Linked DNA regions of Homo sapiens: region 2 is linked to region 1. The links come from fine-mapping of genetic effects on gene expression. A gene starts in region 1. The other region holds a variant in brackets. All regions are shown on one strand. Distances are from middle to middle.

Region 1 (5,378 bases):
TGGTTTTAGTAGAGACGGGATTTCACCATGTTGGCCAGGCTGGTCTCAAACTCCTGATCTCAGGCGATCTGCCCACCTCGGCAGTGTGCCCTCCCAAAGTGCTGGGATTACAGGCGTGAGCCACCACACCCAGCCAAATAAATGTATTTTGAATGAATGAGTAATGTGGGTTCTCTACAAGAAAAAAACTCAGTCAGAAATTACATTTCTTAGTTTCTTTTTTTTTTGAGATGGAGTCTTGCTCTGTCACCCAGGCTGGAGTGCAGCGGTGCGATCTCGGCTCACTGCAAGCTCTGCCTCCTGGGTTCACGCCATTCTCCTGCCTCAGCCTCCCGAGTAGCTGGGACTGCAGGCACCCGCCACCACGCCCGGCTCATTTTTTGTATTTTAATAGAGACGGGGTTTCACTGTGTTAGCCAGGATGATCTCGATCTCCTGACCTCGTGATCCACCCACCTCGGCCTCCCAAAGTGCTGGGATTACAGGCGTGAGCCACTGCACCCGGCCATTTCTTGGTTTCTTTAATTGATTTTCCCTCTCCCTTAGTGAGAGACATGCAGAATACATCAAAATATAGGCTGGACTTTTTTTTTTTAATCTACTTGGAATCCCTTCTTTCAGAAGAGTAGATGTAGGACAAGGTGCCCCCGTCAACTAGGGAAATAGTGTATTTTGAGGTTGAAAAGAAATGCTGTGAATAGGCTTATATCTAGCAAAGAATTGAATTAATAATTAATAACCTTCCAAAACAGAAAGCACCAGGACCAGACAGTTTTACTGGTGAAATCTACCAAACATTTGAGGAAGAAATAGGACCACTTCTCTACAACCTCTTTCAGAAGATAGAAGCAGAAGGAACACTTCCCAACTCATTTTATGAGGCCAGCATTGCTGAAACCAGAGATACAAAAGAAAACTAGACACCAATATCACTCATGAACATAGATGCAAAAATCCTCCACAAAATGTTAGCAAATTGAACCCAACAATGTATTAGAAGAATTATACAGACCCAGGCATAGTGGTACATGTCTGTAATCCCAGCTACTCCAAAGTCTGAAGTGGGAAGATCACTTGAGTCCGGGAGGTTGAGACCAGCCTGGGCAACATAGCAAGACCCCATCACAAAAAAAAAAAGAATTATATACCATGACCAGGGGGTTCATCCCAGGTATGCAAGGAGGGTTCAAAATTCAAAAGTAAATTAATGTAATCTATCACATCCATAGGCTAAAGAAAAAATGTCATATCTATAGATGTATAAAGAAATGCCACTCCATCCATCCCTTGATGATCACGGCAAAGGGCAGTGATGTGGTGTTGGGCAGGGTTTGTGAGGCAGCTGGGGCTGAAATCACTGTTCTGAGACCATCTTAAGCTAAAGGAAGCAGCTGGGTGTGAAACAAAAGAGCCAATCTGCCAAGAAAGACCATAACCCCCAGGTATGGGTCTGTAAGGCTGGAGGACCCCCTGGCCCTGAAGAACCACTGCAGAGGCTATCCATACCAGCCCCAGGGGAGATGGCCAGGGTTACCCCGGAGTTGCCACAGTCTCTGCCCAACACTTCGCCCTACTGTAACCTGCCCCTTCCACTCAAGAAACTCACGAGTCGCCCCTCCCACTCTCCCACAATCATGAGCCACAGCCTCATGGGGGAAGCCGCCATGTGCAGTGACATCCACTCCAGGGCAGGAGCACCACATTTTTCATCCAAAGACATAATTGCTCATCAAGCCATGTGCCAACAAGGCTGCATGGACACCTAGGGACACCTTTTATGTCACCATCAGGAAGGGGCACCTTATATAACTTTCCATAGCTTTGCTCACCGGCCTCCCATGCACTAGTTCACCATGCCTCAGTGAAACCCCAGGGCATCAAAAACTGTAAGGCCAGAAGCCCTTCCACTGGGCATAATGGGGGCATGGGGCAACCCACCCCTGAGATTAGCCTACTGGGATCACCATGAGTCCCTGGGCTGGAGACTTCGCCAGCTCCCTCACTTCAGACCGCTCCCAGACCAGGCTCTGCCATCAGCACCCTCCCCTCACCATGTCTGAACACCTCCTTACAACATTCTAGGACCCCTGCCCCTCTAGAACAGGGAGAGAGTTGGAACCATGGAGAAGGAGCTACCAGACCAGACTTCTGGGCTTCCTGATCTCACCCTCCAATGTCCTCCCCTCAGGGAACTTCCACCCTGGGGCACAGACCAGACGAGGGACAGAGATAGCCCATGAGTGAAGGAACAGCTATAAGCCCCTTCTCAAAGCCCTCCAGACACTTCAGCCTCCTTTCCTTGAGTTAGAGGCCCCATCCCAAGCTAGAGTCATTACTGTAAAAGGAGAGAAAGAAGAAAAGACAAGCTCGTGCCTAGCCTTACTTCCAGTGGGCCCTTACCCTGTGCCTGTCCCAGTGTGACCCAGCACAAAGGGGGACTGCAGAGGGTCTCCTGCCCACTGGCATCCTGCTTTGTCAAGGCCCTCACTCTCTGCCAGCTCTGCCAACCCATGGCCTCTGCCCCAGCCAGCACCTGAGGAGTGCCCACTGCACACCTTGATTCTAGCTATGCCCTGTCCAAGCAAGGACTCCCTGGCCATGTGGTGCCACGAGAAGCCCAAGCAGGAACTTGGGAGCCCCTCACACACACCCAGACCCAAAACCCACCACCCAGTGCTTCCCTTCCTGCTGCCTGTGCCAGCCCCACCTGAGCTCACTGGATCCAGCAGGGGTGGGGCCTACTGCTGTCAGGGCCACGTGCAGGGCCCGCCCGGAGGGGAGGAGAGAAGGCGGGCAAGCTGCTTTTAAGGCAGGTCTGGAGGTGAACTGGCGCCTCTCCTGACTCTTCACCTGGACTCTGAGTCGTCTTGGTCCCAGGAGCCAGTAGTGAAGGCAACAGTCTGCCCACCTGTGGACACCAGGTAGGTGCCTTTATTCTTTAAGAAGAGAGGAACACGGAGCACCTTTGCTGGCCCTGATTCATTTAAACATTTTTTTTTTTTTTTTTGAGATGGAGTCTTGCTCTGTCACCCAAGCTGGAGTGCAGTGGCGCGATCTCGGCTCACTGCCAACGTCTGCCTCCAGGGTTCAAGCGATTCTCCTGCCTCAGCCTCCCAAGTAACAGGGATTACAGATGTTTGCCACCATGCCCGGCTAATTTTCTTATGTTTAGTAGAGACGCGGTTTCACCATGTTGGCCAGGCTGGTCTCAAACTCCTGACCTCAGGTGATCCTCCCACCTTAGCCTCCCAAAGTGCTGGAATTACAGGCGTGAGCCCAGCCTCATTTAACCTTTTGTCTTCAGCTTCTCCATTTCTCAGGGCTCAGAGTGAAGGTGGGGAGAAATGGGGTGGAGGATGTGGATGAGACAGAGATGGTCTCAGGATCACAGACCGCGGAGTTCAGCAGTTCAAGGGAACTAAACCTGTGCCCCTCGGCAAATAGATGAGAGAGCTGAGGGCCACAGAGAAGAGGCTTGCCTGAGGTCATGGAAAGGGACTGGACACAGAACCCAGGCCTCTCGCCTCCCAGCGCTCTGGGAGCCCTCTGGGCACTTCAGAGGTAGACAGGACTGGGAGATGGGGCGGCTGGCCTTCACTGGTCCTATGGGTCCCTGCCTGAGGTCCACGTCCTGCGTCACCGGGTCTGGGTGGGAGGGATGGGAAGATCGGGAGCCAGTTTTCAAAAATAGGGGGTGCAGTGGAGATTGGGCTAATGAGGCAAAGTGCTTTGGGGGAGACTCAGGCTTTACCCTTGCCCCACCCTCTCCCTTCACTGACCTGGGCTCATTGGGAGAGAGTAAGTCAGGAGAAGAGGTTGGCAATGACACGGAAGAGGGGATTTGCCAAGGCACCAGGACTCCCCAGAGTCCTTGGGAACAAAGAAAGAGATCTGAGTCAGAATCAGAAGTGGGAGCGGGTAGGGGGCACCTACAAATAGAGCAGAGGTGGCTGGAGCCCTCCTTGCCCCCGCCCCGTGCCTCCCAACCACACAGAGCCCCGGGCCCAGGGACTCTCCCCACCACTTACAGCAAGAAAGAGCAAGTTAGAGGAGTGTGCGGGGCCGCGAAGGGGGCAGCATTCAGGAATACAGGAGTAAGATGGAGCCCTGCCTTGGTACATCCAAGGGCGACGCAGAGCCTTAAAAGTGAGGGGAGGCTGAAGAGGAGCGTAGGGGCTGCCTGCCCTTTGCTCAGCTCCAGGTCTGTCCCTCTTGGTTCCAGAATCCCAGAAGGGGCAGCGGTGGACAGGGTTCTTAAATATGTGAAGCAGCAGCAGAGGCTAAAAGTGTGGGACCGTGGAGCAAGACCACCTGGGTTTAAACCCCAATTCACAGTTGGGGTTGTATGACCTTGGGCAAATTCCTCAACCTCTCCAGCCCTGCAGCAATAGCACCCTCCTCAGAGAGCTGTTGAGAAAATGCAAGGTGTTCAGTGTCTGTTATTATCACATCCCCATCACACAGATGGGACAACTGAGGTCTGCCCAGAGAGGAAAGGACGCTTGCCCAGCGTGGCACAAAAGCTGTGTCCAAATTAGTAAGCAGGTATACTGGGTCCTGGTTGCGAGGGGACACCCAGCCCTCCTTGAGCTCTGCAAAGTCAGCAGCCCCAGCCTCCTCTGCAGGACACAGCCAGAAAACCCTGCAGGGAGCGCCCAGATCCTGTCCCAACAAACCCAGTCCACTTGGAGCCTGTGTGGAAAAAGCCGTGGTTCCGGCTCTGTGTCCTCAGCTGTCCCGGGAGGGCGGGAGCGCAGAGGCCGGCTCCCTTCCACTTCCATTTATAGAAAGCTTCCCGTGCCCGGGATGCCCCGCCCCCTGCAGGACCTGGCCAAGGAAAAGTCTGGCATCAGACCTACCGGAGCCACGGGCGTTGGGGGAGGCAGGAGAGGGGAAGGGGCCCTGGCTTTTCTCATGAAACCTGTGCGACCTTCAGCCAATCATGCCCCCTCTCTAGATCCCAGGTGTCCCTCTGCACTTGAATTCCATGTGGCATTGTAGCAGGACGAGCCGCAGACAAAACTCCTCAGACACCAAGTTAAAGAAGGAAGGGGTTTATTCGGCCGGGGGCATCAGCAAGACTCCTGTCTCAAGAGCCGAGCTCCCCGAGTGAGCATTTCCTGTCCCTTTTAAGGGCTCACAACTCTAAGGGGGTGCGTGTGAGAGGGTCGTGATCAATTGAGCAAGCAGGGGGTACGTGACTGGGGGCTGCACGCACCGGTAATTACGTGGGAACAAAACAGGAAAGGGATTTTCACAGTGCATTTCTATACAATGTCTGTAATCTATAGATAACATAACCGATTAGGTCAGGGGTCGATCTTTAACTACCAGGCCCAGGGTGTGGCGCTGGGCTGTCTGCTTGTGGATTTCATTTC
Region 2 (5,378 bases), 690 kb before region 1:
CTATTTTACATTCCCACCAACAGTGTAATAGCGTTCCCATTTCTCCATACCTCACCAGCATCTATTGTTTCTTAACTTTCTAATGATCGCCATTCAGAGTGACATGAGATGGTATCTCATTGTGGTTTTGATTTGCATTATCTAATGATCAGTGATGTTGAGCTGTTTTTCATATGTTTATTGGCTGCATAAATGTCTTTTTTTGAGAAGTGTCTGTTCATATCCTTTGCCCACTTTTTGAGGGAGTTATGTATTCATCTAAGAAATCTTCACCTAATCTACAGTCCTAAAACTTTTTTCTATGTTTCCTTCTAAAAGTTTTGTAGTTTTAGGTTTTACACTTTGGCCTGTGATCCATTTTGAGCTTATTTTTGTATATATGTAATGTATAAATCAAAGTTCTATTTTTTTTTCTTTTTGCTCATGGATGTTTAATTGTTCCAGCACTGTTTATTCAAAAGACCACAGATTATCTGTATATCCACTTGGCATCTTGTCAAAAAATCAATTGATAATATATATGTGAATCTCTTTCTTGTCTCTCAATATTTTCCATTGATCTATATCTCTCATTTCACCAGTACTTCCCCCAAACAGCTTTGTTTTGGAAAGCAGAAAAATGTTGTATCATTTATGCAACACATATGAGTTGCTTTAACTTCTTCAACACTGACTTCCTCAGCTTGAACATGGGGCCACTAATACTTACCTTTGGGATTGCCTGGGAATGAGACAGAGGGCGCATGGAGCAACTACCTCAATACCTAGTGTATAGCAGGCTCTCAGTAAATGTCAGCAAATTACCCATTCATTCCCCCTGTTGGAAAGTTAATAACCCGGCAGAGAATTCCAGATACATCCCCTAGGAAGATGACATGTCTCTGTCACATCTAGTAGTTCGCTCACCCAAAGCACCTTCAGGTCTCTTAAGAAGGTGGCCACAGTTGTGGGGTGGGGGGAGCGGGTAGAGATAGCATTAGGAGATATACCTAATGTAAATGATGAGTTAATCGGTGCAGCAAACCAACATGGCACATGTATACATATGTAACAAACCTGCACGATGTGCACATGTACCCTAGAACTTACAGTATAATAAAAAAATATAAAAATATATAAATTAAAATTAAAAAATAATAATAATAATTAAAAAGAAGGTGGCCACAGTCAAAACCTCTTAGTGTCCTCCCAAAGCTGAATTAGCCTTCGTACTGCTGCGTCCTCTGGCTATTCCTTTCCTTATTCAGTTTCTCATCAGAAGATCCAGTTTCCTCCATTTAGGAACCAACTTAATGCCCATCTTGGCTTTAAATAGTGCATCATTTGTTCCCATTTTCATGTTTCTAACATTTCTCCCTTTTTTTCTGAAAATTCTGATTTTGACTTCCTTTAGCATAATTGACTTTATCTTCTTTATCTCATAAAACACAGGGAGTTATTTTGTTTTCTTTTATGGCCCAGAGATTATGATTAGATCAAAGGGCATAAGTCCATTGCATGGTTACCTTAATTCTTAGGATTCTGTACAAATTTATCTTCCCTTAACAAAGTTCATGTTAGGAAACAAAATTGCCTCAAAATTTGGGAACCCAGGAAGCATGGTCCAATCTTGTGCGCTTTGCAAAAGTGATTCTTAATCCTAATTCCTGTTAAAATAAATGAAATGATACCCAGATGCTTAATCATGACAGCAAAGAGGAGGTTCTTCGTGGTGAGAGTAGGGCCGGGAAAACCCATGTCACACTAGTTGTTGGTGACAGATTCTTCAGTGGTGGATCAGAATCCAGAGACACAAAGCTCTTTTCATGGACTAGAACACTTTTTAAAAAGTTTTATTTATTTTTATTTTTTATTTTACTCTAAGTTCTGGGTTACACGTGCAGAATGTGCAGGTTTGTTACATAGGTATACATGTACCATGGTGGTTTGCTGCACCTAACAACCTGTCATCTAGGTTTTAAGCCCCGCATGCATTAGGTATTTGTCTCAATGCTCTCCCTCCCCTTGCCCCCCATCCCCCGACAGGCCCTGGTGTGTGATGGTCCCCTTCCTGTGTCCATGTATTCTCACAGTTCAACTCCCACTTATAAGCGAGAACATGCAGTGTTTTGTTTTTCTGTTTCTATGTTAGTTTGCTGAAATGATGGCTTCCAGCTTCATCCATGTCTCTGCAAAGGACATAATCTCAATCTTTTTATGGCTGCATAGTATTC[C/T]ATGGTGTATATGTGACACATTTTCTTTATCCAGTCTATCACTGACAGACATTTAGGTTGGTTCCAAGTCTTTGCTATTGTAAATAATGCTGCAATAAACATACATGTGCAGGTGTCTTTATAGTAGAATGATTTATAATCCTTTGGGTATATACCCAGTAATGGGATTGCTTGGTCAAATGGCATTTCTGGTTCTAGATCCTTGAGGAATAGCCACACTGTTGTCCACAATGGTTGAACTAATTCACACTCCCACCAAGAGTGTAAAAGCATTCCTAGAACTCTTAAAGATGGTCTCTAGTGGTCATAGAGGTGGGGAGAGTATTTGGGAAGTGCTTTGTAGATAGAAAAGTGTTTGCTTGAGATGTGACTTAAAATGTACATCTTCCCTGCACTCAATCACCACTGTTGCATCTACCCGGAGAAAAATGTTTTTAAAAAAGTGTCCTTAACCTGGATTCAAAGTACCTGGTCATTGAACCTTCCCTTGTCAATTGCTAGTTGTATGGCAAATCATTTTCTCATCACTAAAATGTTTGCTCTGTCCAACTTGTAGGTCATTGTGAGACTTGAACAAGATAATAAATATAAACCACAACTCAAAAGTAAGGCTTCACAAAGCAACTGCTGCAAACAAACAAACAAATGGAACAAAAATCATACCATAGGATGCAGGATAATATAAATTTTATTAGGAAAGACCAGGTAGGGAGACAATTAAAAGTGATCATGAAAGAGTTTAGTAATCTGGCAGAGGCTACTAAATAAAATGTATATATCTAAAAAGATGATCAGTATTGATCATTATAGAGAGTTAGATATGCAGTCTTAAGAATTTTTTTTTAAGTTCCATAGGGGCAAAAGCTGATGACCACTTTCTGTGGCTGAGTCCATGTATCCATGTCAATTAGGTGGAGTTGACTGACCACCATCTGGTACATTAACACAGAGGGAATGAAGAAGAATGAAAGTGAGGTAGACTGCAAACCTTCAGCAGAATCCCAAGCATGGTAGGAAGAAGATGATCACAAAGTTCAGTGTCAGAATGTTGTTTCTCAGAAAAGCTTAGCGAATGTTTCTTGGTGGAATAGGAACTTTGACAAAATGTTTCAGGAAATATGTCTCTGGTGGGTGGTGGGTCTGCAGCAAGTGGATTAGCAGCAGGAAGGCTGGCAGCAGCTGGAGACACAGCAAGGACTGCAGCAACAGCTGGGGCGGCAACAGGTGGTCCTGTAGCAGGTGGTCTGGCAGCAGGTGGGACGGCAGCAAGGCAGACAATAGCTGGACTCATTGCAGGTTTGGCTACAGCAGCTGGACCCACCACAGGTTGGCTGGCAACAGGGTGTGCTGCAGCATCTGGTCACACAGGATGGTTGGCAGCAGGTGGATCTACAAATGGTTTGACAGCATGTTGGGTGGCAGCAAGGCTGGCAGCAGCTGGACCCACAGCAGGTGGGCTGGCAAGAGGTGTTCCTGCAGCAGGTGGGCTGGCAGCAGGTAGGCTGGCAGCAGGTGGTCCTGAAGCAGATAGTTTGATAGCAAGTCGGGTGACAGCAAGGCTGACAGCAACTGGACCCACAAATAGGCTGACAGCAGCTGGACCCACAGCTGGTTTGGCCACAGCAGCTGGACCCACAGCAGGTGGGCTGGCAGCAGGGTGTGCTGCAGCAGGAAGGCTGGCAGCAGCTGGCCACACAAGTGGGCTGGCAGCAGGTGGTCCTGCAGCAGGTGTTTTGACAGCAAGTTGGGTGGCAGCAAGGCTGGCAGCAGCTGGGCACACAGCAGGAGGGCTGGCAACAGGGTGTGCTGCTGCAGGTGGTCACAGTGGTGGGCTTCCAGCAGGTTGTCCTGCAGCAGGTGGTCCTGCAGCATGTAGGCTGACAGCAAGGGGAACAGCAGTGGGTCATGGTGTCAGGGGTGAAGGGTGGGCTCCTGTTCAGAGGTGAGTTTCCAAGAATCTGATGACCCCCTTCTAGTATCTGGACCTTTTATACACTGGTTCCCAAATCTGGAACCAATGAGCAGAATTTTCCTGGTTATTATTTATGACATTATTTTTCATAACCTATAGGGAATTGCCCAGGGACGAAGTGTTCCTTAAGTGTTATGAATCTTCTGAAAATAAATGATTGTTCTACTTAACAATAGATAACCCATAAAAACTTATATCCAGAAGTGAGAGAGGTGATCAACATCAATAGCATCATTTAACTATAAAGTATATATTTTTATTTATTATTTTACTGCTATTATTATCTTAGAGACAAGGTTTCACCTGTCACTCAGGCTAGTGTGCAGTGGCGCGATCATAGCTCATTGTGGCCTTGAACTTCTGGACTTAAGCGATCCTCCTACCTCAGCCTCCCAGAGTGATGGGATTACGGGCATGAGCCACTGTGCCTCGCCTGAATTATCATTCTTTAAGACAGAGTACATTGACTGATCCCCTGACAACTGAAACTAACTTGAAGAGGCCAGAACTATTGTCACCACCTACATTTTCCCCTCCAGCACTAGAACATGGTGATTAACTCAAGGTGACAAATGTAAACCATATTTTAAAATATTTTCCGTTAAAATGTATTTTTTATCAAACTTTTCATCTGTGTCACACAAACACAGATTCAATGACAGTAATTCTAATAGTAATAGCAACTCCACTTGGGTATCTCAATTCCTGAAACAGGGGACTGGGCTCAATTGTAATTGTCGTAATCTTTTCCATGCTGAGCTCCACATCTGTTGATGGCCCTAAGTACAAACATCCCTGGGTACATGATGTTTACGCTTAGTGGTGCAAAGAAAAGTTTAAAAGCAGTTAGTCAGACAACTAAAATATTTTGCTTTGAATTGCAGTTTGAAAATACAAACACCGTTGTGTGTGTTTTTTTTTTTTTTTTTGAGACGGAGTTTCGCTCTGTCGCCCAGGCTGGAGTGCAGTGGCGCGATCTCGACTCACTGCAAGCTCCGCCTCCCGGGTTCACGCCATTCTCCTGCCTCAGCCTCCCGTGTAGCTGGGACTACAGGCGCGCGCCACCATGCCCGGCTAATTTTTGTATTTTTAGTAGAGACGGGGTTTCACCGTGTTAGCCAGGATGGTCTCGATCTCCTGACCTCGTGATCCGCCCGTCTCGGCCTCCCAAAGTGCTGGGATTACAGGCGTGA

Direction of the effects. Positions count from the first base shown, and alleles are read on the strand shown. Sizes are in standard deviations (SD) of each study's normalised expression.
With allele T in place of C in region 2, the expression in monocytes of the gene that starts at base 2,832 in region 1 is lower (moderate effect, 0.68 SD a copy in CEDAR).

The links. PIP is the estimated chance that this variant, and not a neighbour inherited with it, causes the effect. A credible set is the group of variants that fine-mapping cannot tell apart.
Region 2: its variant is the best candidate, but not a certain one, in a credible set for the expression of TNS4 in monocytes (CEDAR, PIP 0.73).

Annotation. Positions count from the first base shown.
Region 1 is chr17:40,499,077-40,504,454 of GRCh38, reverse strand. It overlaps TNS4 (tensin 4), which reads left to right and starts at 2,832. Exons shown (of 13, transcript NM_032865.6): 1 at 2,832-2,921. RefSeq lists an enhancer at 4,419-5,290.
Region 2 is chr17:41,188,629-41,194,006 of GRCh38, reverse strand. KRTAP9-1 (keratin associated protein 9-1) reads right to left here and starts at 4,120. Exons shown (of 1, transcript NM_001190460.1): 1 at 3,368-4,120. The coding sequence starts at 4,120. The coding sequence ends at 3,368. The variant C/T (reference allele first, on the strand shown) is at 2,214.